Regions from separate parts of the Homo sapiens genome. Here all the other regions are linked to region 2. Evidence: fine-mapped expression QTL. A gene starts in region 2. Each other region holds a variant in brackets. All regions are shown on one strand. Distances are between the middles of the regions.

Region 1 (10,441 bases), 39 kb after region 2:
TCTCCTTCCCGGCAGGTTCTGCCCATCATTGTCTTTTTCAGCTGTGTCATATCCGTTCTCTACCACGTGGGCCTCATGCAGTGGGTGATCCTGAAGGTAAGTTCCCAGTGCCCATGGCCAGGGCTCTCCCAGAGTCACCAGCTCACAGGGTTCACACTGTCCCAGAATGCCTTGCTCCCAGAGCCCAAACCTCCCCAGACACACTGCTCCCCAAGCCCACACCCTTCCAGAGTCCCCTGTTCCCAGTGCCTCCACCTTCCCAGAATCCCCAGCTGCCAAGTTCCACACCTTTCTGGAATCCTTTGCTCCTGAGGCCCATACCTTCCCAGAATCCCCAACTCTTAGAGTTCACACCTTCCTAGAATCCCTTGCTTCTGAAGTCCATATCTTCCCTGAACCCCTGGCTCTTAGAGTTCACACCTTCCTAGAATCCTTTGCTCCTGAGGCCCATACCTTCCCTGAATCCCCTGCTTCCAGGATCTTCACCCTCACAGAATCTAGTGCTGACCAAATGTCCTTTCCCAGGGTCTCCTGTCATGATACTAAAGAGAAATAGCACCAAAGTCTAATGTGGTCCTTGCTAGAGGAAAGGTTGCAGTTTTGAGGCGGCACTGAAAAGGTGTAGAGGGAAGAAAATAATTTATACCGAAAAGATATTGAGAGACTGTAGCAGTGGACCATGTTGGCCAGACTTAGCTGGTATAAATGTCAGATCCTGTGCTTATGTTCATAAAATATGCTGCACAAAACTAGGATGTAGGAGATAGCATTGGACAGCAACAGATAGCATTGGACTTGGCAAAAGATTCCAAGGTTTTAGCTGATTGAGCTCAGAATAAATCAGCAACATCAGATGGCTTCCAGAAATGCAAAAACAACCTGTGGTTATTATCTTTGTTCATTTTCTGTTGCTATAACAGAATATCACAGACTGGGTAATTTATAAAGAAAAGAGATTTATTTGGCTCATGGCCAAATAGAGGGTATGGTTTCAAGATTGAAACCTTGGCTGGGAAGGCCAAGAGCATGGCACTGACATCTGGTAAGGGCCTTCTTGCTGTGTCATAACATGGTGGAAGGGCAGAAGGCAGAAGTGAGCACACAAGACACAGAGAGATCAGGGCCAAACTTATCCTTTTTATCAGGAGTTCACTCCCATGATAACCAAACTACTCCTGCAATAACAGCATTAATCCATTCATGAGGGCAGAGCCTTCATGCCCTAATCACCTCCTCAAGGTCATGCCTCTCAACATCGTTACAATGGCAATCAAATATATATATATTTTTATTTGGCAATCAAATTTCAACATGAGTTTAGGTGGGGATATTCAAACCATAGCAGTTATGTTAAGAGCACACACAGCATAGCATAAAGGAGGTGATTCTCCCCAGACCTGGAGACTGTGTTCAACCAAGAGGCTATGACAAACTGAACTATAAGCAGGATAGTGAAAGGGATTGAAACCATGCCCTCCACAAAATGGTTGAAGGAATAGGGAATGAGGAGCTTGGAGAAGAGGAAGTTAGGGGAGGATAGCTGTCTCCAAATACTTACAGAAGAGAGATTAGGCAAAGGGCAACCTGAGAGGCACCAGCAGTGGAGAGAATTCCAGGGAAGCAGATTTCATCTTGATTAAAAAGAAGAGCTTTCTAGTTGGGCGTGGTGGCTCATGCCTGTAATCCCAGCACTTTGGGAGGCCAAGGCAGACGGATCACCTGAGGTCAGGAGTTCGAGACCAGTCTGGCCAACATAGTGAAACCTCATCTCTACTAAAAATACAAAAATTAGCCGGGCATGGTGGCGAGTGCCTGTAGTCCCAACTACTCAGGAGGCTGAGGCAGGAGAGTTGCTTGAACCTGGGAGGCAGAGGTTGCAGTGAGCCAAGATTGTGCCACCGCACTCCAGCCTGGGTGACAGAACGAGGCTCTGTCTTGGAAAGGAAAGGAAAGGAAAGGGGAAGGGGAAGGGGAAGGGGAAGGGCTTTCTAATAGAATGTTTCCCAAAACCTTTTCCACAAAACTCTAGTTCCACAGCATGTTAGTAAATGTTACCAGGTAAAGGTAGCCTAATCCCATGGTCAAATAATTTAGGGAAACTAGGCTAGACATTATGCTATGAAAATTTAAATAGGCTTAATGCAGGACTTCTCAGAGGCTTTACTAAGCTAATGTGTATTGGTAATCTCCAAGGGGTGTGTGTGTGTGTGTGTGTGCATTTCACAATTCTCAAATATATTGGGCCAGGAAATCCTTTCTGCATTCCTACGGTGAAATGAATGGCCTTGGGAAGGGGTAAGCCCCCATCAATGAAGGTGTGGAAGAAGAAGATGAATGGACCTTTTGGGAAAATGTAGATGAAGGGGTCCTACACTGGGCTGGGAGTTGGGAGGAAACTGTGTAAGGTCTTCCACTCCAGCCCCCTCTGACTCTGGGGTTTGCTGATGTCAGCCCACAAAGAACATTCTGCTTCCTTCTAGATTGCCTGGCTGATGCAAGTCACCATGGGCACCACAGCCACTGAGACCCTGAGTGTGGCTGGAAACATCTTTGTGAGCCAGGTGGGTATGGAAGCCTCCTACCCTCATGCTCATCAGCAGCTTCCCCAAAGAGGGCAGTTTCCCTGGATCCCCAGAGCTCTGATTCAGTCCAAGGAAGAGCCATTTGAACCTTCTCCCAGGGTCATCAAATTCTGCTGCTCCAGGGATACTCTGTTTGGGGGATGCCTGGGTCATGCCAGGGAGGATGTCATCTGTCTGGCTTCTCTTACCACTCTAGCCCTAGGCGGTCTTCATCAGCCCAAAGACTCACAAATCCTCCAGATGGATCCAGTTTCTCATTTTACACATGAGGAAACAGGCTCAGGGGATGGGAATCCCTTGACCAAGATTCCACACATATAAGCCACGGCTTCAAATCCAGGTTTTCTTCTTTCTGGTCAGAGTTTTTTCCACTGCATCATTTTGTCTTTTCTTTTCTCCCTCTTTCTTAAAATGTGTTTTCCAAAGTAAATGTGACTCTGAAAGTACCCTTGGTGCCGAGTCCCTTTCAGAAAGCCTGATCCCCCTGAGGATGGCCCTCTGGAGACTCTGCCAAGGCCTGTCCTGGCCCATCTGCCTAATGTTTGAGTCACCAAGAGACACACTGGTTAGAAGATGCCATATTTCACTGGACAGTTTAGGAAACTTTGGAGAATATTTTTATCTTTTTTGCTACGGTGCATGTGTGTTGATTTGAAAGTTTTTGTTCTGGTTATTTTTTGTTTAGTTTTGTCTTGTTTTTAGCCGATGAAGATAGACGTGCTCTCAGATAAACTGTCAAAAAAATCCCTTAAGGTGTTCAAAATGAGGCAAAAGAGGAAAACACTATTAAAATGCAAAGCAGTTATTCTATATGAAAGGCTGCAAATGTGTTCCATGTGTTTTGCTGGGAAAATATGTAGGTGAAAGTGACATTGGGCGATGTGAAGCGCTGCCAAGGTGAATTCACTTTGGACAAGCTGTTGATTAAGCTGACCTAGATGCCGGGGTCTACGCCTCATTTCCCCCAAGAGGGAGGGATGGGGAGCCTTCAGGGATCAGTGGCATCATTTGAACCTCTCTACTTGTGGCAGGCCTGGGCCCTCTGCTCTTGTCCATCCACACTCCCTCCCTGCAGGATCACATTAGCCCCATGGCTTTAAACACTTTAAATGTCTCTCAGGTCCTGCTCTGCAGTCCTGATCTCCCATGAACTCAGGACTGACAGGTCAACTGGCCCCTTGACCGTCCACTTGGAGATCTAAGGGGTGTCGCACATTAAGACGCTAAGTCCAAACAACCTGAACTGTTGCTCCCCTCCCTCATCACCCCTGCCCCTCTCAAGCCCTTCCCCTCTTGGCAAGTGGGAACATCTTCCACAGGATGGTTCAGGCGGAGCTGGAAGAGCTGCCCTGCCTTCCTCCGCTTCCCCCACTGCGGCATCCAATCTATCAGCATTCCCACAGCGCTGCCTCTGTGGCCCATCTACAACCCCCCGCTGCCCGGGCCACCTGCCTCTCACCTGGACACTGCCGTCTCCTCCTACCTCTTCTTCCTTCCCGTACTATCCGTCCTTCACTCATACACCCGAGTGACCCTTCAAACACACAAAGCGGATCATTCCACTCCTGCCTAAGCAAGCGTGCCCCTCACCGTGGCTTCCTAGCCCCTCTGTGGCCCACCTGCCCCCTCTGCCTCTGTCTCAGGCGGCTCCCCCGCGCCCATCTGCAGCAGACATGCTGACTGCTATGGCTTTTGGACCTTGCAGAGCTTCTTGCTGCCTTAGGGCCTCTGCTATTCGCTTGCCTGGAATGCTATGCTATCAAACCATGTCACTGGCTCCTTCAGGTCTCAGCCAACCCTAACCTAATGTCACCTCCTCAGAGAGGGCTTTGCCGATTTCTCAGTTTCTTTGTTTTTGTTTTCTGAGATGGAGTCTCGCTCTGTCACCTAGGCTGGAGCGCAGTGGCACAATCTTGGGCTCACTGCAACCTCCGCCTCCCGGGTTCAAGCGATTCTCGTGCCTAAGCCTCCCTAGTAGCTGGGATTACTGACATGTGTCAGCATGCCCGGCTAATTTTTGTATTTTTAGTTGAGACAGGGTTTCACCATGTTGGCCAGGCTGGTCTGGAACTCCTGACCTCAGCCAATCCTACCACCTCAGCCTCCCAAAGTGCTGGGATTGCAGGCGTGAGCCACTGTGCCTGGCCTACTCAGTTTTAAACACCCCTAACCAGTAGGCATTATCACACATATCTTCATAGCTTTCATCACCATCTAAAATGACATTGCTTACCTGCTTGGTTGCTTGTTGATTATCTATATCCTCCCACCCTCCACGGCTCCCAGGATATAAGCCCTATGAAGGCAGGGACTTTATCCTGTCGACGCCATGTTCCTATTCTATATAACAGTGCCTGGAACACAGTAGGCGCTCAACAACTAGATACTGAATGAGTAATGAAGGGCTTCGGGCTGCCCAGATGCCCAGAAATGCACCCCTCATCCAATGCCCAAGCTCCTTTCTTTTTGGCCACCGCTGTGGCTGCAGGAGAGCTTGGGCCTGCAGCAGGACCTGCTTCACATCCTTTTACATGAGCAGGGGTCATTCCTGGAACCCCACCGAACCTCTGTTGCTCTCCTGGAAAACGGAGATACCCAATTCTATCTCAGAAGGTTGTGAGTAACAAAGGTGACGTGCTTAGCGGGGTGCCTGGCACGTGGCAGGACATCAACACAGGGGAGCATTGTCAGGCCGGGAGGGAGGGATGGGGGTCCTTCTGTAGAGGTAGGCAATGCTGAGGTTCAGAGAAGCTCAGCCAAGTACAGACCCTGGTCCTTACCCCATCCTGCTGCCTCTTACCGTGGGACTCCCAGCTGCTCACTGTGACCTGTGAAGGGAGAGGATGTGCCCAATCACCCCCACCCTGCTTGTCTGACATCTTTCC[T/C]GTTTGCAGACCGAGGCTCCATTACTGATCCGGCCCTACTTGGCAGACATGACACTCTCTGAAGTCCACGTTGTCATGACCGGAGGTTACGCCACCATTGCTGGCAGCCTGCTGGGTGCCTACATCTCCTTTGGGGTAGGTAGAGCCCTCCTTCTGCTTGGCTATGTTGAGGACCTGAAGCCCATCTTTGTGGGAGCCCCACACAGCTCCTGGCCAGAGCAGCCCTCAGATCTTCTCTCTTGGGCCTGCTGTGCTGGCAAGAGGAGTGGCTTCCCCTGAGCCCAGTGGGCTGGACCATTTGCTCGGGCTTTGCGCATGGCCACCTGGGGCAAAGCTTCCTGGTGTTCCATTTACTGAGTGCATGCTAGGTACCAGGCAGTATGCTAGGTGTTTTAATATCCCCATTTTCCAGATGAGAAAATTGAGGCTCCAGAGTAAGTGAGATGCCCAAACCCAGATCTGTCTGACTCCAAAATTTGTGCTCATTTCTCCAGTCTCACACCTGGGCTGTCCCTAGAGATCCGTCCTACTCCTTCCCTCCTCCCTTTCCCCACACTCTCTCTGGGCTCAAGTCCTGCCTCTGCTCCTAAATTATTGCCTGTGCAGTTTACACAGCACAAAGAATTTGTAGGTCAAATTCCAGTGGTGTGAATTAGGCCCTAAAAGCAATCACAATGCTACTGCATGGTGGGCAGAGGGAAATTCTCAAATGCATCCCTCACATAATGCCCGGTAATAATGCTTTACATTCATAAAACACCTTATGCTTTCACATTTGTGCTTTCACAGGCAAATCTTCAAAGGTCTCAATTTTATTTCCTTAATGATCAAAGAAATTCTTGCTTATTGCAGAAACAAATAAGTTTTTAAATCTCTTTCTTAACCCCACTTCCCATGGGTAACTGATTTTATTTTTTATTAATTTTTTTTGTTTGTTTGTTTTTGAGACGGAGTCTTGCTCTGTTGCCAGGCTGGAGTGCAGTGGCGCAATCTTGGCTGACTGCAACCTCTAGCTCCCTGGTTCAAGCGTTTCTCCTGCCTCAGCGTCCTGAGTAGCTAGGATTACAGGCACGCCCCACCGCGCCCAGCTAGTTTTTTTTTTTTTTTTTTTTTTTTTGTATTTTTAGTAGAGACAGGGTTTCACCATGTTGGCCAGGATGGTCTCGATCTCCTGACCTTGTGATCTGCCCACCTCAGCCTCCCAAAGTGCTGGTATTACAGGCATGAGCCACGGTGCCTGGCCTGGTAATTGCTTTTAATAGCGTAGAACAGCTATTCTGAAAGTGGGGTCCATGGACCAGCATTGTCAGCATCACCTGCGAACTTGTTAGAAATGCAAATTCTTGGGCCCACCCTAGACCTGCTGAATCAGAAACGATGGGGGATGCCAAGGCGGGTGGATCATCTGAGGTCAGGAATTTGAGAGCAGCCCGGCCAACATGGTGAAATCTCATCTCTACTAAAAATACAAAAAAATAGCTGGCCGTGGTGGTGGGTGCTTGTAATCCTAGCTATTTGGGAGGCTGAAGCAGGAGAATCACTTGAAACTGGGAGGCGGAGGTTGCAGTGAACTGAGATCGCACCACTGCACAGTAGCCTGGGCAACAGAGTGAGACTGTGTTTCAAAAAAAGAAAAGAAATGATGGGGGTGGAACCAGCATACTGCGTTGCAACAGGCCTCACAGGTGATTCTGATGCCCGCCCAATTTGAGACCACTGACCTAAAATGTCATTCCAAATCTTTCTGTGTAAGTAGGCTTTTAGGTATATACACCTGAGTACTCACATACTTTCTCTCTCTTTTTTTTTTAATAAAAGTTGAGAATCATTGATCAGGAGAAAATAGTTCACAAATTATAAAAAGATATTCAAGCTCACTGATGTTCAAAGGAATTAAGACGATAATAACTTATCTTTCTTCTAAGTGATATGAAACCCTTTACGTGCCCCCAAATGGCAAGTGTGTGGTACTCACCCACTCATGGTAACAGTTTAATTTACTGTAACCTTTTTTGGTGAAGGCCTATCAGTCTATTTATTTTTTATTTATTTTATTCTATATATAATATTTTGTTTTTTTATTTTATTCTATATATAATATTTTATTATTTTATCATATATCACTTTTAATTTTTTTATTTATATAATAAAATATTGTATTTTATTATATAGAGCAATTAAAAATATTTATTTTTTGTTTTTTAACTCCCCACATGACACCAACATGTATTTATATAGAGAGAGACAGAGTTTCCCTCTGTTACTCAAGCTGGAGCACAGTGGTGCAATTACAGCTCACCATAGCCTCAAACTCCTGGACTCAAGCAATTCTCCCACCTCAGCCTCCTGAGTAGCTGGGACTACATACGTGCGCCACCACCCCTGGCTATTTTTTTTTTTTTTTTTTGGTAGAGACGGGATCTTGCTATGTTGCTCAGGCTGGTCTTGAACTCCTGGGCTCAAGCAATCCTCCTGCCTTGGCCTCCCAAAATATTAGGATTACAGGCATGAGCCATTGCATCCAGCTTCAATCACTTTAAAAATATTCTTTCCCTTTGATCCAGCTAGAAAAATTGTGATATAGGGATATTCTCACAAGTGTTCAAGAAATGCAAAATTCCAACATTTGCAAAAGCAAGAAAACTGGACAGCCTAAATGCCCAGCAGTACAGTCATAAGCTGGGTAAGTTGCCCCACACAAGGTGGTAGCATTCAGCATGAGAGTGAGGTGGCCTGTATGTGCTGATTTGGAGATTGACCCTGCCCTGCCTTCTGGCTCTCTGCCCCTGCCCCAGGCTCTCTGGATGCTGTGTGGGGGGTGGGGGGAGGGGGGGGGTGGTGGTAGGCGGTGACCAGAAAATGACCTACATTGTCCCCTTCTTTAATCCCAAATTCCACCTGTCTCTCTCATCTCTGTCCCTGGGGATGATGAGAGATGGGTGAACAAACAGCCAGCCTGCCCCTCCATCTCTCCTTCACTCCGGATGCCTGGACCACACCAATAAGCTCAGCTCTACATGCCACAGAGCTGTCTGGGCAGGGCCAGCTGTTGCGTGACTTTTCAAGAAGTCCCCTTGGGCTCAGGGGCTTTGGTTTCTGGCCTGGTACCCTCCCATCTAGAATTCTAGAGACTGTCATCTGGTTTGCACCTGTCTTGCTGAGGCCTAGAAAAGGGCTCATTAAAACTGGTGCACCCACCCACCCCACCACCAATTGTTTTTGGAAGTGTGGAGGCCAAGGGAAAATTTCCCCTACGTCCTCTGAAGGTTCACTGAAAAATCAGCTCACAAAAGGGAGATTAACAGGAGAAAGGCACACAAATTTATTTAATGCATACACACGGGGGCCTTCAGAAGGAAGACCCAAAGATACAGGGAAAATTGTCCATTTTTACGCTCAGGTTCAACAAAGTATGGATAGCCACATAGAAATAGAATTGGACAAACAGAGTGTGATCTAATACTAATCGACTGAGTGGAGGAAAAACAGCAAAGCCTGTCTGTGTAGACTCTTCTTGGGCTCTCTGAGCATTTTTTCCTTCTGGGTATGGGGCAAGATCCTCTCTGGAAGGGGGGGTCTTATGACCTACACTCAAACAAAGTAGGTCAGATAATTTCTTTATTGCCACTTTTTACCCAGAAAGGCAGAGGGAAGTTAAAGCAATGTTTTTAGGCTTTATGGCTGGCTTTGGGGAAAAGGGCTTCTGGTCTCCGTGCCCTGCCTTGGAGAAGGGGAATTCTAGTTTTTATGGCTAGCCTTGAAGGAGAATTGGACTGATAAATGGGAGGGCAGGACAGAAAAACTTCTTCTGAGGCTACTTCTGAGCCCTTTATTCTAGGTTTTGTTTTAAGAGTCCCAGCAGAAGGAATTTGATATTTCAAAAATGGAAACCCAAAACTTTGTTCCTGAAACTTTTTTTCATGGCAGGATATTGGGGGAGGGGGATGCCATAATATTTTCAGAACTTAGGGCTTTAAATGTCTTAACCTTGTTCTGGTCCCCTTAGACAACGAAAAGAATAACGCTGGTGTTCCTCCTAGTCATTACTTAGAACTTAAACACTGGAAGAATGCTCGCCCATTTCCACAATCTGGCTTAAAACTCAGCCCTCTTTTCTTCCCTTTCTCAGGCAAAAGTCCAGGCCCAGCCCTGGGCAGTCTGGCTTCCCCATTGACAGGGCCTGGGTACCCACTTCCCTTTAGCTGCACAGAATGGGCAGAGGCAGCCAGGATCATCCCTAGGTGCCCTTGAGCCTCCATTTTACAGTCTCTGGTTTGAAAGCCCCAGACTACAACTATAGCTGGCCCAGAGGAAAAGCACCTAACAAACAAACCTTCCTTCCCTTCAATCTCTGGGTCTGCCCCAGTCTTTTCTCCAGAGCAGCTCTCTTTTGCCCCCACCTGGCTCATGACAGTCACTGCACCAGCCCTGTACTGCACGCCCTCTAACTTCCTTCCCCAGTCAGTTCCTCAGTATCTTTGGCTCTGCCCTCAGCCTCTGAATCCCAGAAAGGTCTCTCTTGCCCTTTCCTTCAAGCTCCCAGGTTCGTTCGTTCTTTCTTTCTTTCTTTCTTTCTTTCTTTCTTTCTTTCTTTCTTTCTTTCTTTCTTTCTTTCTTTCTTTCTTTCTTTTCTTTCTTTCTTTTCTTTCTTTCTTTCTTTTTTTTTGAGACAGAGTCTCCCTCTGTCGCCCAGGCTGGAGTGCAGTGGCTCAATCTCGGCTCACTACAACCTCCACCTCCCAGGTTCAAGCAATTCTCCTGCCTCAGCCTCCCAAGTAGCTGGGATTACAGGCATGCGCCACCAACCCAGCTAATTTGTGTATTTTTAGTAGAGACAGGGTTTCACCATGTTGGCCAGGCTGGCCTTGAACTCCTCACCTCAGGTGATCCACCCGCCTCGGCCTCCCAAACTGCTGGGATTACAGGCATGAGCCACTGCGCCCAGCCTCCAAGCTCCCAGATTCTTAAAACCAC
Region 2 (10,441 bases):
CCCTTTACCGCGGGGAACCCATCCCCCAGGCGCTGTTAGTTGGTAGCAACTCACAGCTGCCCCTTCTCTGAAGCATGCTGGGGTCGCTCAGAGAATAAGAATCAACTGCTCCAAAAACATACATTTTGAAGCATTGTCCTGAGCCAAATGGAAGCCACCTCACCCGGGAGGCAATCCCCACTTCCACTCTTAATCCTTGCCCCCATCCTTGGCCCATGACTAGCACTGCTACGAAAGGCTGTCCTTGCTTCACCTCAAAGTGGAACTAACTCCATGGGAGAGTTTGGGCTCTAGGGTGTCTCTGTGGGATCAGACTAAAGCCAAGCCCCAGCCGAGACCACACTGCTGCTTCTTCCCTTGGCCCTATTCTGCCTCCCTTATCCCCTTCTCCCAAGAACACTCCCCCAATAAATCACTTGAACAGAATCCCCATCTCAGGCTAAGGAATCTGCATAAGATCCATCAGGCATCCTGCTGTGTTGGCTCTCGCTGACAGAGAAATTTCACTGGGACTCTTCTTTTCTTCGCTTTCTTTCTCTTTTTCTTTCCCTCTCTCTCTCTCTTTCTTTCCTTTCTTTCCTCTCTTTCTCTCTCTCTCTCTCTCTCTGTCTTCTTTTTTTCAGGATCTTGCTGTATTGCCCAGGTTGGAGTGCAGTGGTGTTATCATGGCTTACTGCAGCCTCGAACTCCTGGGCTCAAGCAATTCTCCCACCTCAGCCTCCCAAGTAGCCAGGACCACAGGCATGTGCTACCATGCTGGTGGCTCATCTTTTCTTTCCTTTCTTTTTCTTTTCTTTCTTTCTTTCTTTTTTTTTTTTTTTTTTTGGAAATAGAGCCTCGCTCTGTCACCCAGGCTGCAGTACAGTGGCATGATCTTGGTTCACGATAACCTGTGCCTCCTGGGCTCAAGCAATTCTCCTGCCTTAGCCTCCCGAGTAGCTGGGACTACGGGCATGCACCATCATGCCCACCTAATTTTTATATTTTTAGTAGAGACTGGGTTTCACCATGTTGATCAGGCTGGTCTCGAACTCCTGACCTCAAGTGATCTGCCCGCCTCAGCCTCCCAAAGTGCTGGGATTACAGGCGTGAGCCACTGTATGAGGGCTCATCTTTTCTATCATGGCAAAATGTATATCCTTGGAGCAGTTGGATTCTTATTCAGGATATGGGGCTGACTGCCCAGTAAATCAATCCTTGCAGAATTCACACTGGGTCTTACCCAGGAAGTCATTCAGAGACACCATAACCCTGATGACACAGAGTCTGGCCAGAGAACACAGTCCCCAGCAGTAGAGTCCAAGCGGGGGTCCAGAATCCATCCTGCCTGTCAGGCAGCCGATGAGATGGTCACATGGGGCAGACACCTCAAGAGCTAGCTCAGATCTTCCAAATACTAGCACGCAGCGCGGTGGCCCCTGGCTTTACCTCAGGTTGGCCAGCTTCTCAATAGTTGCTCCCTTTCTGGTACTGGCTGCCCCGTCATACTCCCCCATGGAGGACAGGTAGGGGAAACAGTGGCCAATGCCTACCTCACTGGGTTATTGTGAGGGTTCCTTGAGATAGTGCATGTAAGGCTCTTATCACAGAGCCTGGCATCTGCCAAGCTCTTAAGTGTGCCAGCTGGTACCATTGTTGTCACCATCTCCTGGAACTACAGGATCCATCTCAGGGCCCCTCACACACTGCTCTTCCCCTCCAACCTGGGAGCTCCAGTGCCTCTCCGTTTCCTGAGGTTGGGGTGGTTAAAAAAGCTCTCTGCCCAAGCCCCTGAGTACTACCTTTCCAGCTCTCATCCCTGTGGGGACCAGCACTGCCCTGGGGAAGGAGACTGATGGGAACCAACAGGAAATGCTACAGCTGAGGCTCCCGGCCCATGAGCTGGCCAGTATTGAGCTTCTGTGATGGGTCAGGTCTCCACGGCCACAGAACTGAGGGAATTGGACGCAGCCCTTGGAATCAGGAACCTTGCTTCTACAGGTGTAGTGAAATGGAAAGGAGTGTTTCCAAGTGAGTCATGGCGTCTGATTGGCAGGCCCATCCAGGAACAACAGTGAGAGTACCAGTGAGAGTAGAGTGAAAGACACAGCCACGCCTTTGACTCCATGGCAGGACACTAGTGGTGGAATTCCACCTGGGGGGTAGGGGACGAGATATGCTTGGAGAGTTTCAATGTCTGAATATGGGACGTGACATTCACAGGTGTCCGTTTTTGTTCTACCTAACAATTGTATTTAATTTGTGGTGCCCTACTTGTCAGCACTTCTCTATGGACCCTGCTGGTCTTTGGTAGATTTGTTTTCCTGGCTCCTGCCAGGAGGCCTTAAGTCCTCTTCATGATTACTCCTGTAAAAATATCTGGCTTCGCCCTAAGTCTCAGTGAGGGCCACATCAGACCACTTCTATGACAGGGGGAGAAGATGGAACAATCAAGGAATTATTTTTGTCTGTATAGCGAATCGGCTTATCAACTGTGACTTGATCAATAAGGCAATGGAGATCCAAATTAATAGTCTCCACAGCCCCTGCCAATAGCTGGAGGAAGTGTACTTTAGAAGGAAGATATAGCCTTTAGTATAAAACCTATAATAGACAGGGACATCACCCCTGAACCCAATAGCATAACATGAATTAAGACCCTTGGTTTGCAGAACATCTTGATCTGGATCAAACTGAAAAGGAACTATCTCAATTTCTCACTATATGAAAAGCTGATATGAGGCTGGGCACAGTGGCTCACACTTGTAATCCCAGCACTTTGGGAGACCGGGGCAGGAGGATCACTTGAGCCCAGGAGTTCTAGACCTGGGCAACATGGTAAGACCCTGTCTCTACAAAATAGGTAAATAAATAAATATTAGAACAACCAGGATGAAATTTTTTAAAAAAGAAAAAAAAATTAGCTGGCGTATGGTGCACATCTGTAGTCCCAACTACTCTGGAGGCTGAGGTGGGAGGATTGGTGGGAGGTCGAGGCTGTAGTGAGCTGAGATTGCGCCACTGCACGCCAGCCAGGGAGACAGAGTGAGACCCTGTCTCAAAAAAATAAATGAATAAATAAAATGCTAATATGAGCTGGAGAGGCAAGAGGAATAGAAGGTAAAAAGAACAACAAGGGAAATACACTTTTTAAGTACAATCAATTAAATATTAAATATTTGGGAACAGTGAGCTCTGAACTGCTTGGGTAAAATTCGCCCTGCCTGGTGGCCTTAAGCACTCCTGCAGGTGGGACCCGGCATCCTAATTCTACCAGGCCTCTTGTTGCTGCCGTAGATGAGCCCCAGACTCGGCCTTCCATTTTGTATTGGATGATGACCACATGTGCCCAGATGTTCTCAGTGAGTAGAGTGGGTCAAGGAGTAAACTATATCGGAAACCGTTGGATAATCATGCCAAGCAGGCTGGGGGCTTCCAGCCTTTGGGGTACTGGAATGCTTTCTTCCCCTGGGACCAGCTGAACTAGCTCTGTAGTTGCCGGGAGAGCAGTGTGCTCTAACACTTGGGCTAGTCCGTTCCCACAGGAAAACTAGAAGAGTCACAAGCAAAGAGTATAAAAGCCCAAGATATTTCTTTAGTCTTTGTATTTAGCTCTATGTCATCAATTTTTTTTTTTACAGGGTCTCACTCCTGTCGCCCAGGCTGGAGTGCAGTGGTGTGATTATGGTTCACTGCAGCCTTGACTTCCCAGGCTTAAATGATCCTCCCACCTCAGCCTCCTGAGTAGCTGGGATTACAGGTGCACGCCACCACACCTGTCTAATTTTTTCTATTTTTTGTAGAGACAGGGTCTCCCTGTGTTGCCCAGGCTGGTCTTGAAGTCCTGGGCTCAAGCGATCTACCTGCCTTGGCCTCCCAAAGTGCTAGGATTATTGCTACTTTCCAATATTTCTACTACAGACTACGGGAAGTCCATTTTTCAATGCCAAATGCAGAAGAAAAAGTTGTATGGATGCCCTTTCTGCCAATCATCCCAGGTTTAGGAGAGAAGAATGATGAGGTCATGTTCATGGAACTTGACGAGTGATAAGCCTCTTTATTTGTCCAGTGCTTGGATACACGAATCGATGCAATGAAAGAGACCTCGCCTGTGAAGAGCTAAGAAATGAGTGTGGGCAGAATCATGAGAAGAAAATAAAGAGATTGCTGAGCAACTCTTCTGACAGTTCTTGTGCTTTTTGAATGTTTCACTCACTACTTATAAAATAACCTATTATGTCAGAGCCTGGCGAGAAGGGATCCTCTCCAACTCTTTGACTAATAATTCCCTAAAACAGGAGGTGGCCTGCAGAAGAACTAAAACCAGAAAAGTTAGGTGGTTGCCTCTGAGGAATGGGATAGAGTTGGAGGGGTGGAGCAGCCCCTTTACTGTCAACCCTTCTGAGCTCTGCTGGATGGTGAGGGAAATTATCTATGTATATTTATGTGGTCCTCTCCCCACTCTGCCCTGGCCTGGCTCAGCTCTAGGTCTCACTCAGCGGGCGTCTGCGGGTGTGCCGGGCCTCAGAGGCTGTCTCCTTAGGAAACAGGCCACCAAGAAGCCCAAGGACATGCTGAGGTCCCACAGCTGGAGGGGCACAGCCGGGACACCTGAGGTCCTCCAGCTGTTGGTCTTTCCCTGGGGTCTCCACCCCAATCTATCCAGCCTCCCAACTCCCCAGCCTGTGGCTTTTTGCCACATTCCACCTGAAAAGACCGCTTGGCTTCTGGGGTCTGGGATCCCTGCTGGCCATGCCTCCTTGAGAGGAGGAGCAGGGGAGAAGCCCGGAGTCTCCTGGCCTGGAGGAGGGGAGCAGTGTGTCAGGACACCCCGGATGGGACCTGTGACAGCAATGACACCTGCCAGCCTGATGCCGCTTGACTCCCTGCCAGGTACTTCCTAAGCAGGAGCACGCTGACTCCTCATGTGCTCTATTACCCACCACCAGATGAGGCAGCAAGTTAACTTTGGCAGTCAGGAGTGGAGACCTTTGGGCTCCAAGCTCAAGGTCCACCCCAAGACACACAGCCCATTAAATCCTTGTTGTAGAGATTAGGGCCCACAACGATGTGAAGGTTATAAGCTGCACTGCATGGTTGCTGCTGGATGTGTTGTGTTCCTGGCTTCCCTCTGGATGCTGACAGAAACAAGGGTGAGAGAAAAGGACAGTAGGAGAGGAGGGAAGGCGGGACTGAAGAAAGGAGGGGAAGGGGGTAGCACAGGGCAAAGTGGAAAAGCAGGTAGCGTCCTTTTTTTCTTCACTAGGGCTTGGCGAAGACCCCTTCGAGGACAGCTCCAGGCCCATCCCTGTGGTGGCCACCCATGGAGACAGTAGTGCTGCTCAGAGGCATTTAGTTTTTGTTTCTTTTCTGTTTTTGAGGTAGAGTCTCGCTCTGTTGCCGAGGCTGGAGTGCAGTGGTGTGATCTCTGCTCACTGCAGCCTCCACCTCTCGGGTTCAAGCAATTCTCCTGCCTCAGCCTCCCGAGTAGCTGGGACTACAGGCACCTGCCACCATGCCTGGCTAATTTTTGTATTTTTAGTAGAGACGGGGTTTCACCATGTTGGCCAGGCTGGTCTCGAACTCCTGGCTTCAAGTGATCTGCCCACCTTGGCCTCCCAAAGTGCTGGGAGTGCAGGCATGAGCCACCGTGCCCCCCCTCTTTTTTTTTTTTAAAGGTAGAGTCTTGCTCTGTGGCTAGTTTTCAATCAAGGTAACACATGGGCTCTCAACAGTGTGCGGAACTCTGCTAGAAAAATCAAATTATGAGAACACTGTTACTGTGTGATCCCCTATTGGAAAATGAATAACATAAAATAACATACATTTAGGAAAAAAAAAGTGGAGAAAAGGCCAGGCGCGGTGGCTCATGCCTGTAATCCCAGCACTTTGGGAGGCCAAGGTGGGTGGACCACCTGAGGTTGGAAGTTCGAGACCAGCCTGACCAACATGGAGAAACCCCATCTCTACTAAAAATACAAAATTAGCCAGGTGTGGTGGCGCATGCCTGTAATCACAGCTACTTGGGAGGCTGAGGCAGGAGAATCGCTTGAACTTGGGAGGCGGAGGTTGCAGTGAACCGAGCTCGCACCACTGTACTCCAGCCTGGGCAACAAGAGTGAAACTCCGTCTCAAAAAAAAAAAAAAAAAGGAGGAAAATGCCACACAAACTCAATAGTGGTCATCCCTGAGGGCTCAGATTCCGGGGACTTTAACTTCCCTCATTCTGTATATTTCTCTAATGTTTAAATGTTTAATGATACACTTGTAATGCTTTGGTAATTCAAATGACAGATGAAGAAAAAATGTTTTCAAAAAGAGGGGGTGTCCATCCACCATCCTCTCCAAACTTCCAAAACAACCAGGAGGTGCCGGTACTAGCAAGTATTTATGCATCATAGAGGATTTTGTCCTGAGCGCGTACCATTAATTATTAAAGAGATGTTGTGAATCCCGTCAGATGAGTTTAATGTTTAGTGTGAGGACTGGAAAACTAAAGCATTCAGCCCTTCGCTTTGCACACCGTTGGCTTAGGTATTCATTTAACAAAGATGAAATGAAGGGGAAATGGTGTGATTTGGTTTTGTTTTCTTGACAGACCTGAAACACTTTTACTATTTCTCACAGCTACACTGCTTTCCTCATTTTCCAGCACAGGAAAATTGGTTGCTGTTATAATAAATCCCCATCTAGTGAGAAAGGGAGATAGAGAAAGATGCAAAATGAAAGATAAAATGCAAAAAGCTAACAGCCTGGCTGGGGAAAGGAGGCCATGGGAAGGAAGGAGGGGGAGGGAAATAATCACATAGGTGGCTTCCTGGAAGAAGCGGCCCTAATAGGCCTGGAAGAGGTCAGTTTGGGAACTGGGGAGAGGGCAGAGGAGGGCATCTCTGATGGAGAAGCAGCAGCCAGTGGGCAGGAGCTGCAGGGAGCCAGGTTGCAAGTGGGCCTGCTTCCTGTATCCCTGAGACCGTGTTGGGGTCCCCACCCTGGCTGTGGCCCTGGCCTCTGGGGAGGCGCTGGGCAGAACTGGGTGGCAGGCCCAACCTACTCCGACCCTGGACTCTGCCCAGGAATTTCTGCTGAAGTGACAAGGCAAGCCAGAGCCAAAGCAGGTTGGACCCAGCTTGTCCCCACAGAGACGTGTGCTTCCCTCTCTCTCTGAGAGCGACCTGTTAACCGCAAATACGTGAGTAGAAACAGGGCCCCGCTTCTGTGTGCGCTGCTGTGCGTCTGTGTGTGAGCCAGGGCATTCCCAGGCTCTGCCTGTGTGTGTGCACGCACATGCACGGGTCTCTGAGTATGTCAGCCTAACTGGGCTGGCATTTGGATGGAGTAGGGCACCACCCAAGGGGAGAAAAAGGAGCGGGAACAAGAGAAGGGAGAGAGGAGGTGTTAGTTACCACTCTTATTTACAGATGAGCTTAAGCCTACGAACTGAGCTTCAGCAAAAAATGAACTATATTGATTCTTGCAATGGAAAGTCCAGGAGTAGGATTGGTTTCAGGTATAGTTGGATCCAGGAACTGGAATGATGCCTTTAAGGATGTTGCACCTCCATCTTTCAGAGATGGAAAAGTAGAATACACTGAAGATCTCACTTAATGGTAATAGTTTTAACCAGTTGTAGGGAGTGATGAAAGCTAGGTCCTCTCTTCAGAAAAATGCCTGTATCAGATACATATGCAGGCTGTATATAATTCTTTACTTTCCTTCCCTATGAAGTGGGCAGAATTTGCTGTTTCTGCCTGGAACTCCCAGAGTTCACAAGGACTTGCCTCTTACAGGTTCAGATGTGGGTGCAGGCTGGGGTGGTGGCGCACGCCTGTAATCCCAACACTTTGGGAGGCTGAGGTGGGAGGACTGCTTGAGCCCAGGAGTTGGAGGCCAGCCTGTGCAACACAGGGAGACCCAGTCTCTAGAAAAAGGAAGAGGTACCTCCTCCATGTGCTGAGAAGTCAAGGTTGCAGTCCCAGTCACAAGGAGGGGTGAGCTCTGGGATGGCATAGGTGGCCCCCAGGCAGGGCTCTGGCTGTGCCAGGCATCTGCTCCCCCCACTCAGTCCTCTCCCCTTTCCCCGGGCCCCTAAACTGGGCCCTGCCCGGCCTCCCTTTCAGCGTTGGGCGCTCCCTGATTTGTCTTTCAGCTGGAAGGTCTGGGACATGGAGAACGACCCCTCGAGACGAAGAGAGTCCATCTCTCTCACACCTGTGGCCAAGGGTCTGGAGAACATGGGGGCTGATTTCTTGGAAAGCCTGGTCTGTACCCTTCCCCATCAGTCATCCTGACCCCTCAGCCTCTTTGGCTTGAGCCCGGCTGCCGAGGTGATGAGGCTTTTGCTCACCACCTTCCCTCATACCCCATTCTTCTGCCCCCTTCTCACCTCTTTGCTGGCACAGTTATGAACCTCCCAGTGTGTTGGCCTCCTCAACACAAGGCAGACCCCTTTATTTCACTCATTAAACATTGACTGAGCACGTACTGTGTGCACTATAGTCTGAAAGTCCTAGTCTGAAAGGGCAGGGCAGGCCCCAGTGAGGAAGTGACATTAGAGCTGTGACCTACAGAATGAGAATCAAAACCAGATGATGGGGGAGGGGGGTCTCTAAGGAAATCTCAGCCTTCAAGGAGCCTTGTCCTTGCTTTCAAGTGGCCAGGTCAGGTCGAGGCACACCACCCAGAACTCGGAGCCTGGTAGGATACCCTGCACGCTCCCAGGCTCCTCTGACAAAGCCCCCTCCCCTTCACTGCCCTTGTCTCTTGGGGTGCTCCTTTCACGCTGTCATATGCAAGAATACCCACCCCCCACCCAAAACAGCTCCACAGACGGTGGGTGCATGGTGCCCTGAGGTCATGTGATGAGGTAGCCCTGCCTGGGGCCTCCCTTACAGGCCTCCCCTCGGCCCCTCTCAGTCACAGCTGGGCCGCAGGTGTCTGTCCCTGCGCAGACCATGAGCTCGCTGAGGGCAAGATGTGTCTGGCAGAGCCCTGCACACAGTAGGTGCTCAGTGCCTGCCTTGCAGAATCCAGTTTAGTAGCCTTCTAATTCCTCCCTGTGCCCCAGCCCAGTCCCCTCCTCAGCCAGGGTCTCACCGTGGCCCCCGACCCCCAGCTGTAAGTTCCTGGGGGTGGGTAAGGGGCAGGCCGACCTGACGGCTCCCTGCGGGCTGTAGGAGGAAGGCCAGCTCCCTAGGAGTGACTTGAGCCCCGCAGAGATCAGGAGCAGCTGGAGCGAGGCGGCGCCGAAGCCCTTCTCCAGATGGTAGGTGATCTCTGGAGAGACAAGGGCGGGCCTGGGGTGGAGGCTGCTTGGGAACAGGATGGGGAGCCGGGCCTCCTGGCGGATGGGAGTTGGGGGGACGTGAACCTTTGTTGAAGGGAGGAATAAAGGCGCTTTAGCCAACACGCACAGGCACATGAGCCTCGAGGGTGAGCCAAGTCACAGGCTCCCCACCTGCTTTTGAACAGCTGAAACGAAATCCCATCAGGAACCCCAGTATGTACCGTGGGGCCTGCCCTGAACCAGCCAGGCCTCCCTCTCAACCTCCCCCTTCTGCCTTCTACCCCCATTCAGTCTCTGGGGTACCTCGGGGAGTCTGAAGACTCCGGTTAAAAATCCTGAACTGGGCAAGGTCCCTGATTTTACACAGGGAGGTAGAAGCCCAGAGAGGGGAAGGGACCAGCCAGGATGGCATAGGCAGCGAGTGTCTGAGGTGAGCATAGAACTCCACCTCCTGATGCCTGGGCCATCTGGGTCCTTGTTGGCCAGATCCGGAGCTGAGGACACCGTGATGGGCAGGGGGTGGTGGTGGGGGAGGGATTCCGTCTCTCTGCCTGGGCAGGGGATATGGGAAGAATGCCTCCTCCACCCTCTCAGGAGGAGGTGGGAGGTGGGGACTGAGAGGAGGTGAGGCTCCTTAAAATGGCAGCTGGTGGGTGGATTCCAATTAGCATTGAGTGGGCGTCTACTCAATGTGTGTCCCATGGGCAGGTGGATGAACGACAGGGGAGGGGAGGCAGCCATCCATGTTTTTCTTTTCTTTTCTTTTCCTTTTTCTTTTCTTTCCTTCCTTCCTTCTTTCCTTCCTTCCTTCTTTCCTTCCTTCCTTCTTTCCTTCCTTCCTTCCTTCCTTCCTTCCTTCCTTCCTTCCTTCCTTCCTTCCTTCCTTTTCTTTCTCTCTTCCTTCCTTCTTTCTTTTCTTTTTTCTTTCTTTCTCTTTCTTTCTTGCTTGCTTGCTTTCTCTTCCTTCCTTCCTTTCTCTCTTTTTTTTTTTTTAGGCAGGTCTCACTCTGTTGCCTGGGCTGGAGTGCAGTGGCACGAACCCTTCCTGGGCTCAAGAGATTCTCCTGCCTCAGCTTCTTGAGCAGCTGGGATTACAGGCGCACGCCACCATGCCTGGCTAATTTTTGTGTTTTTGGTAGAGAAGGGGTTTGTCATGTTGCCCAGGCTAGTCTTGAACTC
Region 3 (10,441 bases), 59 kb after region 2:
CATGATCTTTTTTTAATGAACTTCATTCCTTCAGCAAGTATTTGTTGAGACCATTTAGGTGCCAGGCATTCTGCTAGGCACTGGGGATAAAAAGGAGAATTACACAGACATGGCTCTGGTCTCATGGAACCGACATGTAGTGAGAGACACAGGCAAAACACAAGAAAGCAAAGGAACAAAAATTAAAATAACCACAATTCGTGGTAAGTTCTATGAAGAAAACAACAAGAAAAAAAAAAACAGGGCAGGGTCTTCCTTGGCTGGACTGGTCAGAAAAAATATCCCTGAGGTGTGGCATTTAAGCCAAGACTTGGAGAACGGATGAGCTAGGACAAGCTGGGAAAAACATTCCAAAGGAAGAGGCATGTGCAAAGGCCCTGAGGTTGAAAAGCACTTGGTGTGCTTAGAGAGCAGAGGCAATGGATACAGCTAGAGCAGGTGGTAATCACAGGCCAAGGAACAGTTGGAAATCACTGAAGATTTGACATTTTGAATTTTAAGAAGATGACTGGAGGCTGGGTGTGGTGGCTCATACCTGTAACCCCAGCACTTTGGGAGGCTAAGGCAGGAGGCTCACTTAAGACCAGGAGTTCAAGACCAGCCCTGGAAACAAAGCAAGACCCTGGCTTTACAAAAAATTTAAAAATTAGCCAGGTGTAGTGGTGCACGCCTGTGGTCTCAGCTACTTGGGACACTGAGGCAGGAGGATCGCTTGGACCCAGGAGACTGGGGCTGCAGTGAGCTATGATTTTGCCACTGCACTCTAGCCTAGGTGACAGAGTGAGACCCTGTCTGAAAACAAAAGACAGAGAGAAGGAAGCAAGAAAGGAAAGAAGGAAGGGACAGAGGGAGGGAGGGAAAAAGACAGCGAGACCGAAGGAAGGGAGGGAGCCTGGGGCTGCTCTGTGGAACACAACTGTAGGTGGGCAAGCAGAGATGCAGGTACCTTCATATTTTTTCCAATAATATTTGTATCAATGCTTTATGTTATAAAGGCATTAACTTTTTTCTGATATATTTTCTACATATACTTTTCCTAGCCTTTTCTGTTATTGCCCTTTATGTTGTATAAGGAAATTTATTTTTTGGTTTTTAAATGTAGAACGCTTCATGAATTTGTGCGTCATCCTCAGGTAGGGGCCATGCTAATCTTCTTTGTATCATTGAAGTTTTAATATATGTGCACAAGAAGCAAGCACAGGAATGTGTTTTTTTTTTAATTAAAAAAATTGTATTTACTTAGAAGCATTCAGAATGTCAACAAAACAGCTGTAACTTTTGAGTGGTATATATGTATGTATTTATTTATTTATTTTTGGAGACTGGGTCTCACTTTGTCACCCAGGCTGGAGTGCAGTGGTGCAATCACAGCTCACTGTAGCCTCTGCCTCCTAGGCTCAAGTGATCCTCCTGCCTCAGCCCCTGTGTAGCTGGGATTACAGACGTGTGCCACCACACCTGGCTAACTAACCTTCGCATTTTTTGTAGAGACGGGGTCTCGCCGTATTGCCCAAGTTGGTCTCAAACTCCTGACCTCAAGCAATCCTTCTGCCCTGGCCTCCTAAATTGCTGGGATTACAGGCATGAGCCACCACGCCCGGCTCCAGTGGTGTTTAGTTAACAAAACAGCAACTATTTTGTGTAAGCTGCATCAGAGACAACTAAAGATGAAGGCACTACCATCCACATACATAACTAATGTGTGCTGTGTGCCAACAAGAGCCTGCTTTAAATTTCCATGCCAATTTATAACCCCCATACTGCACCAGGCAAGGTTGGTGGCTATTGAAAATACCACCAGGACAGAGTTATCTAAAGACACATTGGGTAGTATGTAACTATGCAAAAAAAAGGACACTGTACAGTTTAAAAACAAATCTTACATGGCCTTACATTTTAATTTATTTCTTTAAAAGGAATGAATTTAGTGTGGGGGGGTTAAATACATTATATACAAAAAAAAAGCTACTAGAACTAGCTTATTCATCATCTTCATCTTCCCCATCTTTCCTTCCCCCTCATCCTCTTCCTCTTTCTCATGTTTCTCCTATTCTTTCTTTTTCTTTCTTTTTCAGCCTTGACAGCTCCCTTATTTTTGCTACATCAGGCTTTCCTTTAGCTCGGTATGCAGCAATATCCCTTTTGTATTTTTCTTCCAGCTTTGCAGGTGTCTTTTTCTAAGGCTGCTTATTCTCCACAGCGGTTTTATAACCACATCTCTCCTACTTTCTTTGCAACATCAACAACGGATAGGCTGGGATGTTCTCCTTTGATTTTTGGGTGATGCTTGGAATAGAACAAGAAGAGGCCAAAGGAGGCCTCTTGGGCGCATTGGGATGCTGGAACTTCTTTTTTGTTTTCCCTTTAGGAAGGATGTAAGTTTTCATTTCTCTTTCCTAGCCAGCCTTGTCCGCCTTTGCCACATCTTCAAATTTTCTTTTCTGTTTAGTTGACATGGTCATCTGCCTCTCTGGCACTTCTTTGAAAGCTCTGAGGAGTTGCCTGAAGCATCTGGGTGCTTCTTCTCGTGTCCCTCCCAACAAGCTTGGACAGGGAGTGCATATAATCACATTTTGCCTCTTGGCTTCTTAGGGTCTCTTCTGCCCATGTTTAGTTATTTTTCCTCAGTGAGGCACAGAGTCACCCAGTGCCTGTCAGCTCTCACTTGACCCAGCATTTGGGATTTGTTTTTTTTTTTTGAGACGGAGTCTCGCTCTGTTGCCTAGGCTGGAGTGCAGTGGTGTGATCTCGGCTCACTGCAAGCTCTGCCTCCTGGGTTCACGCCATTCTCCTGCCTCAGCCTCCCAAGTAGCTGGGACTACAGGCACCCGCCACTGTGCCCGGCTAATTTTTTGTATTTTTAGTAGAAATGGGGTTTCACCATGTTAGCCAGGATGGTCTCGGTCTCCTGAACTTGTGATCTGCCCACCTTGGCTTCCCAAAGTGCTGGGATTACAGGCGTGACCCACTGCACCCGGCCGGGATTTGTTTTTTTTTTAACATAGATTTTATACCAAATATTTTCTTTTGTGATTTCTTCTGTTATTTCTAAACTTATAACGTTATCTGGAAAGTGCGGCTGGGCACGGTGGCTCATGCCTGTAATTCCAACACTTTGGGAGGCCAAGGAGGGTGGGTCACTTGATGCCCGGAGTTTGAGACCAGCCTGGCCAACATGGCAAACAGGAAATAGAAAACTTAGCCAGGTGTGGTAACACACACCTGTAATCCCAGCTACTTGGGAGGCTGAAGCATGAGAATCGCTTGAACCCAGGAGGCAGAAGTTTTCAAAAAAAGGAAAGAAAGAAAAAGAAAGTTATCTGGAAAGTGTTAAATTCGTGAAATAACGTGATGAGATAATTCAGACCATGAGCTTTGGAGTCAGAACTGAGTTCAAATTCTGATACAGCTACCTTCTTGCTGTGTGAACTTCCTTAGTTACTTAACCTCTCTGAGCCTCGGTTTACTCCTCTCCAAAATAAGAGTAATAATAGTACCTTGTAACTATATTTATTATCCTATATTTTCTATCATTCTATACTTAAAATATTAATATTTATCTAGAATTAATTTTTATATAGTGTGAGGGGAGGCTCTATACCAATTTTTTAAATAATTTTTAATTTTTGTGGGTATATAGTAGGTGTAAATATTTATGAGGTACATGAGATGCTTTGATACTGGCATGCAATGTGAAATAAGCACATCATGGAGAATGGGGTATCCATCCCCTCGAGCATTTATCCTTTGTGTTACAAACAATCCAATTATACTCTTAGTTATTTTTAAATGTACAATTAAGTCATTACTGACTATAGTCACCCTGTTGTGCTATAAAATATTAGCTCTTATTCATTTATTCTAACTATTTTTTTGTACCCATAAACCAATTTTGTTTTCAAATTATTTCATTTTGGCTCTTAAAACTTCTTTCTGGGAAATAGGACAGTTGTTAAGAACAAAAGCAAATAACTATTGTGTTTGAACACTTACTGTCTGCCTGGTGTTTCCCATACATTATATAATCCTTTTTACAGCCCTCCCAGGCAACTACTATTATTCCCCTATTCCAGACAGGAAAACTGACACTGAAAGAAGTGACTGACTTCTCAAGCTGATCATTGGTGAGACAATCCTAGAAGCCAGGCTGGCTGGGCTCCAAATCCCTTACTCTTTCCTGTGGGCCATACTCCCTCTCTCAGCCTGAGAGCATTCACAGGAGTGCTGTGAACTGGAAGCCCAGGACTGCGGGGTCAGGGAAGGGGCTGTCCACCAAATGGCCCCAGGACAGAGCTTAGTAGGGCCAAAGCGACAGGACTAACAAAGGCTGAACCCCATCCAGAAAGGCTGGTAATGAAGATTAAAAGGTTGAAGGACAGGCTGGGTGTGGTGGCTCACACCTGTAATCCCAGCACTTTGGGAGGCTGAGGTGGGCAGATCATCTAAGGTCAGGAGTTTGAGACCAGCCTGCCCAACATGGCGAAACCCCATCTCCGCTAAAAATACAAAAAGTTAGCCGGGCGTGGTGGCGGGCACCTATAATCCCAGCTACTCGGGAGGCTGAGGCAGGAGAATGGCTTGAACCCAGGAGGCACAGGTTGCAGTGGGCTGAGATTGTGCCACTGCACTCCAGCCTGGGTGACAAGAGTAAAACTCCGTCTCAAACAAAAACAAAAACAAAAAAAGAAACAAAAAAAGTTGAAGGACAGATAAGAGAGGGGGGCTATGTTTTTGATGTGGTGCAGTTTGAGCCAACTTAGAGGTGGGATTGCAAGGCTGGGGAAGCGGCAGCACAGAGGACTCAAAGGTCAATTACATGTAAGAAGTGGGTAAAATTAAGGCCAGGGAGCCTGGGTGTTATAGGGGTGCCCCAGGCCCATCTGAGGGGAGCCCCTCCTCATGCATCTTCTGTATTTTCAGGTCAGAGCTGAAGTCCTCACGACGTTTGCCCTCTGTGGATTTGCCAATTTCAGCTCCATTGGGATCATGCTGGGAGGCTTGAGTGAGTCTAATCAGGGCCTCACCAGTGTCTAGGAGAGTCTGGGACTTGAACTTGCTCGGGACATGTAGGCCTCAGTTGTCTCATTTGTCTAAAGCAGGACCCAAACAAGATGGCCATAGAGGCCAGGTGTGGTGGCTCATGCCTGTAATCCCAGCACTTTGGGAGGCCCAGGTGGGTGGATCATTTGAGGCCAGGAGTTTGAGGCCAACCTGGCCAACATGGCAAAACTCTATCTCTACTAAAAATACAAAAATTAGCCAGGCGTGGTGGTGCACGCCTGTGATCCCAGCTACTCAGGAAGCTGAACCCAGGCACGAGGATGAGCTGAGATCGCACCACTGCACTCCAGCCTGGGCTACAGAGCGAGACTCTGTCTCAAAAAAAAAAAAAGAAAAAAGAAAAAGATGTTCATAGAGTTTCCTCCTAGCCCTAGAATTCCGATTCTCTGCTGCTGCTGGTGGCCCAGGAAGTTAGCACCTGGGCCTTGAAGGCCAAGCCTGGCTCAGGGGTGGGAGGTGTGGTGCTTGCCTGTCCCCAAGGCTTTGGCCTGCCTGTTCCCACACCCACAGTGGACAGGCAGGCAGGCCTGGTGGGGCCTAAGGTCGAAGGGTCTGCACAGTTCTCAGTTCTTTACAAATAACATTTCCAGTCCTGGCAGCTACACTGCCTGGTGGTATAATCACCCCATTTTACAAAGAAGGAAACTGAGTCTTCATGAAGTGAAGTGGTGGCCCAAGTCACTCAGCTAGTGAGTGGCTGAGCTTGTATTTAATCCCAGGTCTGCCTGACTCCAAACTCACATTCTTTTCCTGCATCTGCCACTCATGGTGTGTAGGGAGATGTGGGGCATTGCCTAGGGGTCCAAGCCAGGCCAAAGAGAACTCCTGAGCTCAGCAAGCTGTCAGGAGGACAACATCTGTCCCTCTGGCCATCTATTAATAGAAGAGGAAGGGAGGTCAGCAGATGCAGCCCGAGCTGCGGAACGCGGGCAGAGAGGGACACAGCTTCCCAGGCCCTGAGCACTTCTGTCCCCTTGCAGCCTCCATGGTCCCCCAACGGAAGAGCGACTTCTCCCAGATAGTGCTCCGGGCGCTCTTCACGGGAGCCTGTGTGTCCCTGGTGAACGCCTGTATGGCAGGTGAGTGCAGGCCTGGCAGGCTCAGAAGGTGGAACCCTGACTTTCTGGCTAGCCCGGGGGCCCTGCCCCACCCACCACTTTCCCTCTACAGGGATCCTCTACATGCCCAGGGGGGCTGAAGTTGACTGCATGTCCCTCTTGAACACGACCCTCAGCAGCAGTAGCTTTGAGATTTACCAGTGCTGCCGTGAGGCCTTCCAGAGGTGAGGGCCTGGGCTGTGGGACCTGCAGGGCACCCACAGTGATAGACAGAATGCCTGAGCGCTGGGGGGGATGCCTTTGGTACCAGGGTGAGGGTAGAAATGTTACGGCTGCAGCTAATGGGGAGGTGAAGGCTCGAGGACCAATGGAGGAAGGGTGGACCAGAGACTTGAAACAGTGTTCCCGGTGTTGCACAGCCTG[G/A]TGGTGGCCCGCAGAACCAGGCCTGGAGCTCCCACTGCGATCTTTGCTTTCTTTTTAGCGTCAATCCAGAGTTCAGCCCAGAGGCCCTGGACAACTGCTGTCGGTTTTACAACCACACGATCTGTGCACAGTGAGGACAGAACATGCTTGTGCTTCTGCGCTTCTGAGGGCTGTTCTCCCCCGGGAACCATCTGTCCCCACCTTCCCTTTCCCAGAGCCCTCTTCAGGGAAGCCACAGGACTTAGACCCAGCTCAATCCCACAATTGGGAAGGGTTCATGGAGTGAGTGTGCAGAGAGTGAGTGAGGACATAAGGAAGGACATGTCCCACTCCATCCCCCTTCCTGCTCCCCCATTTCCTAACTCCCCCAGTGTGAATTCTCAGGGTCACTTCTGCCTCCTCCCGTTTCCCCTCCACATCCAAACAGCACCCTGGTCCTCTCTATCCCCCCTCTCCTGGGGTCCCTCACATGCCCCTTCCCTTCTGTTGTGGGCTGCACACCAAAGCCTCCTCCCCTCCCCACTTCCTAGGCACTAGGATCTCTCTGTGGCTTCCCCTGCTGGGTGGTGTCACCTCTTTCTCTGCTTTCAGAGAAACCCTTCCCGCCTTTCCTCAGAGTGCTTCCCAAACTGAGGTCCCATGGCACACTGTCCTGGGAGGCGTTCAGAGGGTTCCATGATGGACTAGGTTTGGAACCACTGGGTTAAATAAACTTAGAGAGGGCTGTTTAGACTTTTGTTTGTTTATTTTTTTGTTTTTTTAACTGTGAACTTGTCAGAGCTTGGTGGTTTTTTCCACATTTACTTGACCATAAAAACCTTTTCACTCTGTCACCCAGGCTAGAGTACAGTGAGGTGATCATGGCTCACTGCAGCGTCAACCTCTCAGGCTCAAGTGATCCTCCCACCTCAGCCTCCTAAGTAGCTAGGATCATAGGCATGTACCACCATGTCCAGCTAATTTATATATAAATACACACATATATATACATACATATATATATATGTGTGTGTATGTTCATATATATATATATATATATATATATATTTTTTTTTTTTTTTTTTTTTTGGTAGAGATGAGGTCTTGCTATGTTGCCCAGGCTAGTCTCAGACTCCTGGACTCAAGTAGTCTGCCCACCTTGGCTTCCCAATGTGTTGGGATTATAAGCATAAGTCACTGTATCTGGCCCATAAGAACCTTTTTGATGGAAGTGTCTCAGTTGAAGATTTTGTGGAATACAACTTGGGAAATATTGGCTAATGTTCAAACTGCTTTACTCTAGGCAACTGTAATGTTAGCAAATGCTTATGTGGCACTGTGTGCCAGGCACTGTTCTCAGCGCTTTATATATTTTAACTCAATCCTTACAACAACTTCATGCAGTAGGTGTTATTATTGTCACTAGTTGAGGAATCGGAGTCGCGGACAGGTTAAGTTATGTGCCTAAAGGGACAGAGCTGGGAAGAGGCAGAGGCAGGATTTGAGCCAGGCCACCTAGTTCTGGGTGGTATAGGGGTGCCCCGAGCCCATCTGAGGGGAGCCCCTCCTCATGCATCTTCTGTATTTTCAGGTCATAACACAAACTGCGATGTGGGGCCTCTCTGTTGGGCTGCTGGTGTTCAGGGAACCCTGATGGGTGGCCCGCCCTCACCTCCCTCGCTGCCTTTCCTCCCCACCCCAAGCCCTCTGTGCCACTAGGTGAGGCCCGATGTCCCTCCCCTGCCTTCATTTCTGGAGTTCCTATCACCAGCATGCCCTCTCCATCTCCCTGCCGCCTGCCCTGCTCCCATCTCAGTTCTCATTTTCCCCAGCAGCTTTGGCTTCCAGGACCTGCGATGCACCCTGCCCTTGTGGCTGCTGGGGCCCTACACCCTCACCCCTACCTGCCAGGTCCAACTTCTTTCCTAGCTGGGGCTGACCCTGACCTAGGGCAGTGGGAGGGTGGAGCCCTGGCCAGCAGTTATTCAGCTCAGCCCCAGTGAGCCAGGTCCTGTTTCTGTTCTGCCACAGACTTTGGTTCCAGTGGGCAGCAGCCTTGCTCCTTGTGAGCCCCACAGGCTGACCTGGGTCCCCATCCTCAGGGCCTGTGTCCTTCCCTTAGCTCCACAGAGTGGAGGCTTGGCCTGACTCCTGTAGCTCCAGCTAGGCTCTTGCCTTCTCTCTGCAGCCCTCCCTCAGTCCTTGCTACCTGCTCCAGCTGCCCTTGGGCTGTGGGCAGGGTGCCCTGTTGATATGGACAACACAGTCCTCTCCCAGGATTGGCCCTCCGCCCCTTCCCTGCCCATATGTTGGCCTCAGCTCCACTAGCTGGGTCATGGAACAGCCCAAGGACTGCCCTTGACCCCCTTCTCTGGACTCCCTGCACGCTCATTCTGTGGCCAGTGGCCTTCCCTAGAAGACTGCAGGCCACTTGAATATAGGGCTCACACTGTACCCTTCTGTCTTAGTCAGTTTTGGCTGATAACAAAATACCATAAATGGGATAGCTTATAAACAACAGAAATGTATTTCTCACAGCTCTTGAGGCTGGGAAGTCCAAAATCAAGGTGCTAGAAGATGCTGTGCCTGGTGAGAGCCAGTTTCTCATAGGTGGCACCTTCTCCCTGTGTCCTCACATGGCAGAAGAGGCTAATGAGATCCCTGGGGCCTCTTGCATAAGGACACTAATCCCATTCATGTGGGCTTTACTCTCATGACCTTATCACCTCCCAAAGACCCCCCCTCCTAATACCTTCACCTTGGGGGCTAGGATTTCAGCATATGAACTTTGAGGAGACATGAACATTCAGACCATAGCAAATAGTAGTGTAAGCTATTAACAAGAGGGGAAAATGGGTGTGGGATATATGGGAGCTCGGTAGTATTGGTGCAACATTTTGTAAGTCTAAACTATTCTAAAATTTAATAGTTTATTTTTTAAATGGCATGGGGAAAAAAAAACTGCGTGGACACAGATGCTGTATAACTTGTAATTCAGCCCATGGGTAACTCTGTCCTAGACAATGCATGTCCCAATAGGCAACATGCCAAGGTCTGTGAGTTGACTAATGGGCTACATTGACCCCCCTTCTGCCCCTTTCTTCCCATGGCCCTGCCCTCACCTCTGCTGCCCCCTCAATTTAATTCAAGCTCATGCCTTCAGCTGAATGTTAATTAGTCCTGACCTCTTTGCAACCACATGAAGAATATCATCTGCTTGAAATTACTTTTGACTTGGGATTAGTGAGCCCTGAGGTTGGACAGGACCTTAAACATCATTTTGAGGGTGTCTACCTCCCCATCCAGCTTTTCTGAGAATGTTTATACCCACTGTATGGATGGCCTCTGTCAACATGTTTTTATGTTTGAGTCATGAGACTCCATTCCCATGAGTGATTTGCTATTGAACCAGGATTGAATGCCTGACTCAGGGCAGGCCAAATCTGTACTCTTGCCAATGGCCTTTTGGATTCTTGGGAAGGAATATGAATTATAAAACCCAGAAACAGAGCTGGGAGCTGAGTCACCACGGTGGGGCTATGGCTTGGAGCTGACCTCATTCCCTCCCTTACTGCAGCCCAGTTGTTCTGCTTTTCCTTGGATTCCATGACAGCCAAATTCTTTCCAGAAATCCCCTCTAACCTAAACTAATTGAGAAGGTTCCTCTTTGTAATGAGAAGGACATTGCCTAGGATAGTCACTTTGTTAACCCCCGATTCTGCTTGAAATCAAGCAGTCATTCATCATTTGCTTAAACCTCATCAAGATAATAACCTCACGCCTCTCATTGCTACTCCACATTGGAGAGCTCCACTTCTGAGAAGGTTCTTTTTTGATTTTGCATCAAAAAGTGTTTTGCTTTGATCCATCCCAGTTTTGCCATTCTGGGCCACTCTGAATGGGTCTCATCTCATATGTAT

Which allele goes with the higher level. Positions count from the first base shown, and alleles are read on the strand shown. Sizes are in standard deviations (SD) of each study's normalised expression. Not every link is listed here.
For the expression in left ventricle of the gene that starts at base 5,043 in region 2, allele G in region 3 goes with a higher level than allele A (small effect, 0.28 SD a copy in GTEx).

Evidence for each region. PIP is the estimated chance that this variant, and not a neighbour inherited with it, causes the effect.
Region 1: its variant is fine-mapped to the expression of SLC28A1 in nasal epithelium (TOPMed, PIP above 0.99).
Region 3: its variant is fine-mapped to the expression of SLC28A1 in left ventricle (GTEx, PIP above 0.99). The same link has a PIP of 0.9 or more in skeletal muscle.

The regions. Positions count from the first base shown.
Region 1 is chr15:84,918,509-84,928,949 of GRCh38, forward strand. SLC28A1 (solute carrier family 28 member 1) reads left to right here. Exons shown (of 19, transcript NM_004213.5): 10 at 16-96; 11 at 2,481-2,561; 12 at 5,477-5,602. Among named protein-coding and RNA genes, the nearest start is that of SLC28A1, 39 kb to the left of the region's middle. RefSeq lists enhancers at 5,646-6,146, 9,559-9,618. The variant T/C (reference allele first, on the strand shown) is at 5,468.
Region 2 is chr15:84,879,620-84,890,060 of GRCh38, forward strand. It overlaps SLC28A1 (solute carrier family 28 member 1), which reads left to right and starts at 5,043. Exons shown (of 19, transcript NM_004213.5): 1 at 5,043-5,132; 2 at 7,053-7,168; 3 at 8,126-8,237; 4 at 9,153-9,241. The coding sequence starts at 8,142. RefSeq lists enhancers at 4,122-4,622, 4,623-5,123, 10,058-10,441.
Region 3 is chr15:84,938,525-84,948,965 of GRCh38, forward strand. SLC28A1 (solute carrier family 28 member 1) reads left to right here. Exons shown (of 19, transcript NM_004213.5): 16 at 4,921-5,002; 17 at 6,042-6,140; 18 at 6,232-6,343; 19 at 6,601-7,274. The coding sequence ends at 6,676. It also overlaps the pseudogene RNU6-796P and the pseudogene HMGB1P43. Among named protein-coding and RNA genes, the nearest start is that of PDE8A, 38 kb to the right of the region's middle. The variant G/A (reference allele first, on the strand shown) is at 6,543.